Homo sapiens: one gene and its partner. The protein of the gene in region 1 purifies or fractionates together with the protein of each later gene. This does not show direct contact. Each region holds a gene or a part of one and is shown in the gene's direction. Other genes may lie near its edges.

What was found. The genes of interacting proteins can lie anywhere in the genome.
Region 2: the proteins of CIPC (region 1) and BMAL1 purify together in Homo sapiens (affinity purification with mass spectrometry; one large-scale study listed by BioGRID and IntAct). This does not show direct contact.

The regions. Positions count from the first base shown.
Region 1 is NC_000014.9:77,104,758-77,108,257, forward strand, and holds part of CIPC (CLOCK-interacting pacemaker), read left to right. Parts: intron 1-899; 5' UTR 900-951; coding exon 952-1,087; intron 1,088-3,500.
Region 2 is NC_000011.10:13,364,790-13,368,289, forward strand, and holds part of BMAL1 (basic helix-loop-helix ARNT-like protein 1), read left to right. Parts: intron 1-710; coding exon 711-803; intron 804-1,875; coding exon 1,876-1,993; intron 1,994-2,276; coding exon of another isoform or gene 2,277-2,389; intron 2,390-3,500. UniProt on the Homo sapiens protein: Transcriptional activator which forms a core component of the circadian clock.

The DNA.
Region 1 (3,500 bases):
AAAATGGTCGCTAGTTGAGTGATTACTTGATTAATGACTGTCTCTCTCTAGATCATAAGCTACAAGAAGGAAGCGACAGATGCCTATTCTGTTCATTCTATATCCCCAGTCCTTGCACAATGCCTGATTTACAATGGCATTTGATAAATATTTTTAAATGATTGAATGTAACTTATCTGAGCCTCAGTTTCCTCCCCTGTAAAGTGAGATAGCAACTGAAGATGACATTGTGAGGCTCAAGTGAGATAACACTAATAGCAACGCATATTATAAGCTCTTTATTATATATGATTTTATTTGCCCATAAAAGTGTTTTTTAAGCCTAAAAGTAGCATGCATGTATAGGGAGTTGTTTTTGCTCTCTGTTCAATACCTCAGCCAAAGGATTTAGAGGTTAATTTGAGAAACACAACACTGTGGGAGGTGGCAATAGGTCATGAGCCTGCAAATGTACACGAGGAAAGCAAGCCTTGCGGTGTCTCTTTTCTCCTCTCCCCTTTCCCCTCTCCCCCTCCTTCTGCCCTCTCTCTTCTCCTGTCTTCCTTTTCCCTTCTCTTCACTCCCCTGTCCCCTCTCCCCTCTGGTGAGTTCATTTCGTTACCCATTGGAAAAAGCCTAATCAAATGTGCCTTTGTTAGCAGTTTACAAAGCGAATGCTGAATGTGGTTTGTGTGCCTTGAATTTGTAATGGAATTAGAGGGCAGCCAGAGGACTGTGAATCTCCTTATGGGTGGAAACCATTCTGTTTAGTAAACTTGAAGCTTTTGTCAGTTGAAACCTCTGAGAAAATAAAGCTGAAGTGGGTGAGGCCAGTGTTCTTTGCCCATACTTTATTCACTGTTTGGATCACCTGTTTCAGCTCTCCAGGCAGTGACTTCTTATATAATTGTTTTTCATAGGGCAGTCCAGATGAAAAGAGTACCAATGAATCTGCCTCCAGCTGAATAAACCATGGAGAGGAAAAACCCATCCAGAGAGAGCCCCAGAAGACTCTCTGCCAAAGTAGGCAAAGGCACAGAGATGAAGAAAGTGGCTCGTCAGCTTGGGATGGCTGCTGCTGAGTCAGACAAGGACTCTGGCTTTTCAGGTTAAAAATATCTTATCCTTCCTCTGTTTTGTGAGTGAATGCTTTGCGTGAAAAATTTCCTCCCCAAAACTCATTTATGTGATAAGGATGGGATGCTTTCACACACAGGATAAATACTTACCTGCTTTAAAATGGTAATTCTGATGCCATATGTCAGGGTACCCATCAAAGTCACCACAGGGTTAGTTCTGAAAGAATTATTTAACATCTTTTTTCAACTTAGACTCTGAATCTTACACTTCCAACTATTGCAATTGGTCACTGGAAAAAATATTTAAATACTCATAATTCTGTTGTTTTACTTCCTTTTTCACAGGAATTATTACATTGTAGGGGAAAAATTGCTACTGCATGTAGTTTCCATGTAACAAATTGGAAGACTGCCAGTTAAATAAAAGTAATACTGTATATAATTTGTAAGGTAACTTTTTCATTGAGAAAGTAGTTTCGCTGTGTTTAGAAATGTACGCCTCCAACAACCCCTCCCCCCAGTCTCTATGCATTTTGTATTTGGACTGTGAGCCACCTGGCCTAGCTCTAAACTTGAGTATCTATTAGAGATAAGAAAATAGAACAGTTTTCCTTACAAGTTTTTCTTAAACCTTACCCAAAAGGGCTAGCTGCATATATATTGAATCATTCAATTTTGTGCTGGGGCTCTTTTTTTATTTCCCGCTCTGAGGGTAGTGGCTTGAATATGGCGCTAGTGTGATTTTTGGCGCGGGGATGCAGAGGGGTGATGCTGAGGGATTCTGGTCAAGTCAACATCCTGAGAGTAGAACCCTCTCAAGGAGAAGATTTATATTATCCAGACTCACAAAGACAAATCAATCAATTTTGATTTATTAACTTATAGTGAGAAATGCAGCTGTTAGGAAAACTAGAACTCTCTTGTCTTTAGATTGGCATATTTTCTCCCTGTAGGCATGCTGCTTGAAAAGGCAAATTATAAATAGACCGTTGCTCAAAGAGGAACAGAGCGCCAACCAAGGGATTAGATTAAAAGGAATTAGTTGCCCTGCCCAGGGCCAGGACAGTCCAGGGAAGGGCGGGCCAACCTTCCCTTTGGATTTTTCTTCTCTCTCTCAGCATTGTTTCCTAAGCCTGCCTCATCATAAGGCTCACCTGAGGCATTTGTTAAAAATATTGATCACCAGATCTCCCTCCTGGAGACTCTTTCAAGGGTCTGGACAGGGCCTGGAATGTGGGTTCTTTTAAAAAACAAGTGTTTCTGTTGTATGATCAGACAGGTTTGGGAAACACTGGAGGCCTAGTGCCTCTTTTTTTCTTTTAATATCACGTTTGCTTTTTGTTTATGTTTCATTTCATGAATACGTGCTCATTGTAAAAGCTTGGACAGGTAGGAAAGCATGAAGAAGAAAAACATTATCCATAATCTTACCATCTATTATTTCCAGTACTGTTGACATTTTGACACTTCTAACAACTTCAACTTTGTCAGGCCAGTTGTTTTAAGAATATTGTACTACTCAGATATAAGGTGGTATTAAAATAATCAAACTCATTATGCCCCAGAAAGTAGCCCCAGTGAATGCCACTGGAATGCTTCGAGCCACTCTTGGGCCAGGTGCCAGTGATTTCCTCACTGCCTGAGTTATTCCAGTTACCTTGGAGTAGGATGAAATTTGCAAAATCAAGACAATTTTTCCCATTTTAATTACCACATTTGTAGTTCAAAAAATTTCAAATCTATACAAAAGCAAATGAATACCCCATATGTCTATCTTTTTGCCATATATGCTTTCTCTCTCTCGCTCTCTTTACACACACACACACACACACACACACACACACTCTCTCTCTGAATTATTTGAAAGTAAATTGCAAACACTTGACATTTTACCCCATGTAGCTTCAGTACAGATTTCCTAAAAACAAGGACATTCTTCTATGTAGTTATAATATCATTATCATACCTAAGAAATTTAACACTGATACTTATCATTAGCTACACTCCATATTCAGATTTTCCCCCATTGTCCCAATAATGTCCTTTATAGCTGTTTGTCTTTTTGTCTGTTTTGGATCCAGAATCCAACTGAAGATTGAGCATTGCATTTAGTTGTCCTGTCCTTTAGTCTGGTTTAGTTTATAACCACTCCCCTATCTTTTCTTTCCTTTTTTTCTTTCTTCTTTCTTTATGACATTGACATCTTTGAATGAGTCAGGCCTGTTGCTTTGTAGAATGTCTCACACTCTGGATTTTCTGGTAGTGTCCCCATTATTAGGGTCAGGATTAGCATCTTGACCAGAATACTATGTTGTTGATGTTGTATCCTTCCCATTGCAACACATTTGGAGACTCATAAGTTAGTCTTACTCTTGGTGATGCTCTGGTTGGTTGATCACTTGGCTAAGATAGTGTGTACAGATTTCTTTACCATTAAAGTAC
Region 2 (3,500 bases), on another chromosome or scaffold:
AAGAAGGGGTAAGAAGAATCTAAGCGGGGAGTTTTGCTTTTCTGAATGCAAATAGTCCGGCCCTGGATGGAGGGATAACATTTGAGAGTAGTAGTTCTCAGCCCTATGTACATTAGAATCACATTAACGTGGAAGTGGGATGGGTTTAAAAATACCCCAGTGATCAGCCCCATGCCAGACCATCAGCATAAAAACAAAAACAAAAAACACTGCTCCGAATGTTGAGAACCACTGTTTTAGAGAGCTCCCTGTACGTGGAGGTTTTCAAGTTGAAGGCAGATGATGGCTGAGATGTTGGAGAGGGGATTCTTGAAGAGTCCTTCCAAATCTCAGATTCTCTGACTCTCCATAGAGTTGTTATTATTAGAGCAATGAAATATGATTCTCTGGACCATGATACCTTCAAAAGAACACGTGCAAGCTGAATTCTGCTTTGAAATATAACTTACTTTAATTGGACTTTCTTCCTATAATAATTAGATGATATGCAGAAACACACACACACACACACACACACACACACACACACACAATCTTACAGTTCTTCAGAGACGTTTGTTTTCAGCATCCTGCACTCAGGATATCACTGAAACTGTTAGTGTTCCTGTGCTTTGGATGCTTAGAAAGCACATCCTCTATTTGTTATCAGGGTGATTACAAATTATGTTTCCTACAGTATGAGAAATTGATTATCCATTTCTCCTGATTAGGCAGCAGATGGATTTTTGTTTGTCGTAGGATGTGACCGAGGGAAGATACTCTTTGTCTCAGAGTCTGTCTTCAAGATCCTCAACTACAGCCAGGTATTGTTCATGCTCCTGTTGATGGTGGGCAGCCTCACAGCAGTCAGAAGTGTCACTCAATTTTGTCAGAATAATTATAGTATACAAGTCACATGTGAACTTCTTCCAGAAAATTCTTAACTTCTTAACAGATAAATTAATTTAGACTTAGAACAATCTTGTAATATGTTCCGTATTCCCCCCATTGAAAGATCTGACTCTGATCTGATCGATAGCATTATGGCTTTCTTCTATTGCTGCAAAATAAATATCCCACAATATGTGGCAAGGACAGAGGGTAAGAGGCTATCTGACAAGGGAGAAAGGTAGGCAGGTTAACACAATACCAGAGAATACGTCACTTGGAAATCCACTCCATACTGTGTTTGCAGTGCTGTGTCACTTCTTAGCTCTATTGAACCTCAGTTTACTCTAAAAATTAATGATAACTTATAGGATCAAATAAGAGTAACATTTATAAACGCTTCTAGAACAGAACTTTTCACCTATTATGTCCCCCAGAGTTTTTATTCATTTATTCATTCACTCACACACTGGTATTTGCATGGAAGCTTGGTAGGCAGAAGACTTGAAGAATCAAAATGACATTTATGTAAATTAGAATTAATGTAAATTTAATTTTTCCAAAGATTTCTGCTCTTTTTAGTCTCAGAGCAAAGTTATGGAGGAAGTTGCTGTTATCTCTGTTAATAGACAAGGTGACTGAAGCATATGATATGCGTGACTTGCTTGAGAACAGAGAGGCTGAACAGCAGAGCTGGAATCAGAGCCCACCCCTATCTTCTGCCTTCTGAGGTCTTACAGGGGAATTCCAAGATTGTTGCCTTAGAAGAGCATAAACTGTTTATATAATTGAGGGTTTTCCCGTCATGTTATCAAAACCAACCTCCAGATGCCTCCTTCCTGGTGTCAGGCAAAGTGGTTGGACATATGTACAGGTTCACATAGGAAAAGTTTGAGGTCTCATGCACAAAAACACAAAGGCAACATGCAGACTGTGCATGCTTACTTGTTGCATAATTGATTTTCTGCATGCAATTGACTTGTCATGTTTAACATTTCATCTCCCCAGAATGATCTGATTGGTCAGAGTTTGTTTGACTACCTGCATCCTAAAGATATTGCCAAAGTCAAGGAGCAGCTCTCCTCCTCTGACACCGCACCCCGGGAGCGGCTCATAGATGCAAAAAGTGAGTACCAGAGAGGCCTCGCATTTCCTCAGCAGCCCACTCACAGGCAGCCAACCCTGAGTGAGCAGAGGGCGGGTGTGTGTGATGGGCTCAGCCTTTCCAGTCCTACTTCTCTGTCCTCTTTCTGGGGCACCAGAGCTATCTTTGGCTAAATGGAATTATTTATGTTCTTTGGTCTTTTACATAAAAAGAAGAAAAAAATCTCAATGTCCAAATTTATTGAAAAGAAGAGCTATTTAGACTGGATTCTTTCTGATTTTTAGACTTTTCTTTTTTCTTTCAGAATCTAGAAAATCCCAGTTGTATGCTCCTGAGTTTAAAGGGCTAAGTTTGATTTGTTCTCCCAGAACAAATGGGCTCTATTTACCTGAATTGCACACAGGCAGCCTCATAAAAGTAAGAAAACGTCAACTATAAATATGGTGTTTCTTCAACCAAAGTGTTCCTCCTTAGGTTGGCTCCCCCACCTGGCTTTCTTCTTTTGCAGTAGTGGAACCACCATCCACATCGCTCCCTCTGCCCCCAGCTTCCTGCTACTGCACACACTTCTGTGCAAGGCCCCAGTAGCTGTCATCTACTTTAGTCCTGTGGGAGGCTGTACACTCCTACAGTTAAGAATGAGAGAATGAGGACTCTGGCTGGGCGCAGTGGCTCACATCTGTAATCCCAGCACTTCGGGAGGCTGAGGCAGGTGGATCTCTTGAGGTCAGGGGTTTGCAACCAACCTGGCCAACATGGCAAAACCCCGTCTCTACTAATAATACAAAAATTAGACAGGTGTGGTGGTGCGTGCCTGTAATCCAAGCTACTTGGGAGGCTGAGGCAGGAGAGTTTCTTGAATCCAGGAGGTGGGGGTTGCAGTAAGCTGAGATTGTACCACTGACTGCACTCCAGCCTGGGTAACAGAGCAAGACTCTGTCTCAGAAAAAAAAAAAAAAAAAAAAAGAATGAGAACACAAGGGAGATTACTGGGCTCATTCCGGCTCCACCATTCACTAGCTGTGTGACCTTGAGCAAGTTACTTAACCTCTCTCTGTCTCAGTTTTCTCATTTATGGAAGAGTACCTATTTCTTTGGGTTGTTGTGAGGATTGAAAGTGTTAATGTATATAAAGCAGGCAGAACAGTTCCTAGCACATAGTAAGAACAGTATCAGTGTGGCCTAATGTCTTGCTCCCAAGCTGTCCACGTTAATCCCTGGAAAAAAATACCACCAGATAATCTCCTTCAAGTCATCTCTTTCATTACAGCACACCGCTTGTTCCTAAAAGTAAAATGCAGACTTTGGTATCTGTTGTTCTTTATAGTCTAGCCTTGGCTTTTTTAAGTGACCTTAGGAGAAAAATATGAATGGCATTTGGGCCTTGCCTTTGAGGCTCTTAGCATATAGTCAGAGAAATGAGACAGACAGCACCCTGCATAGTAATAGGTACAGCCATAGAAATAGTGCCAGGCATAGAGAACGGATGATTAATTCTCATGTGGGCGCAAGGACAGGCATCACTGAG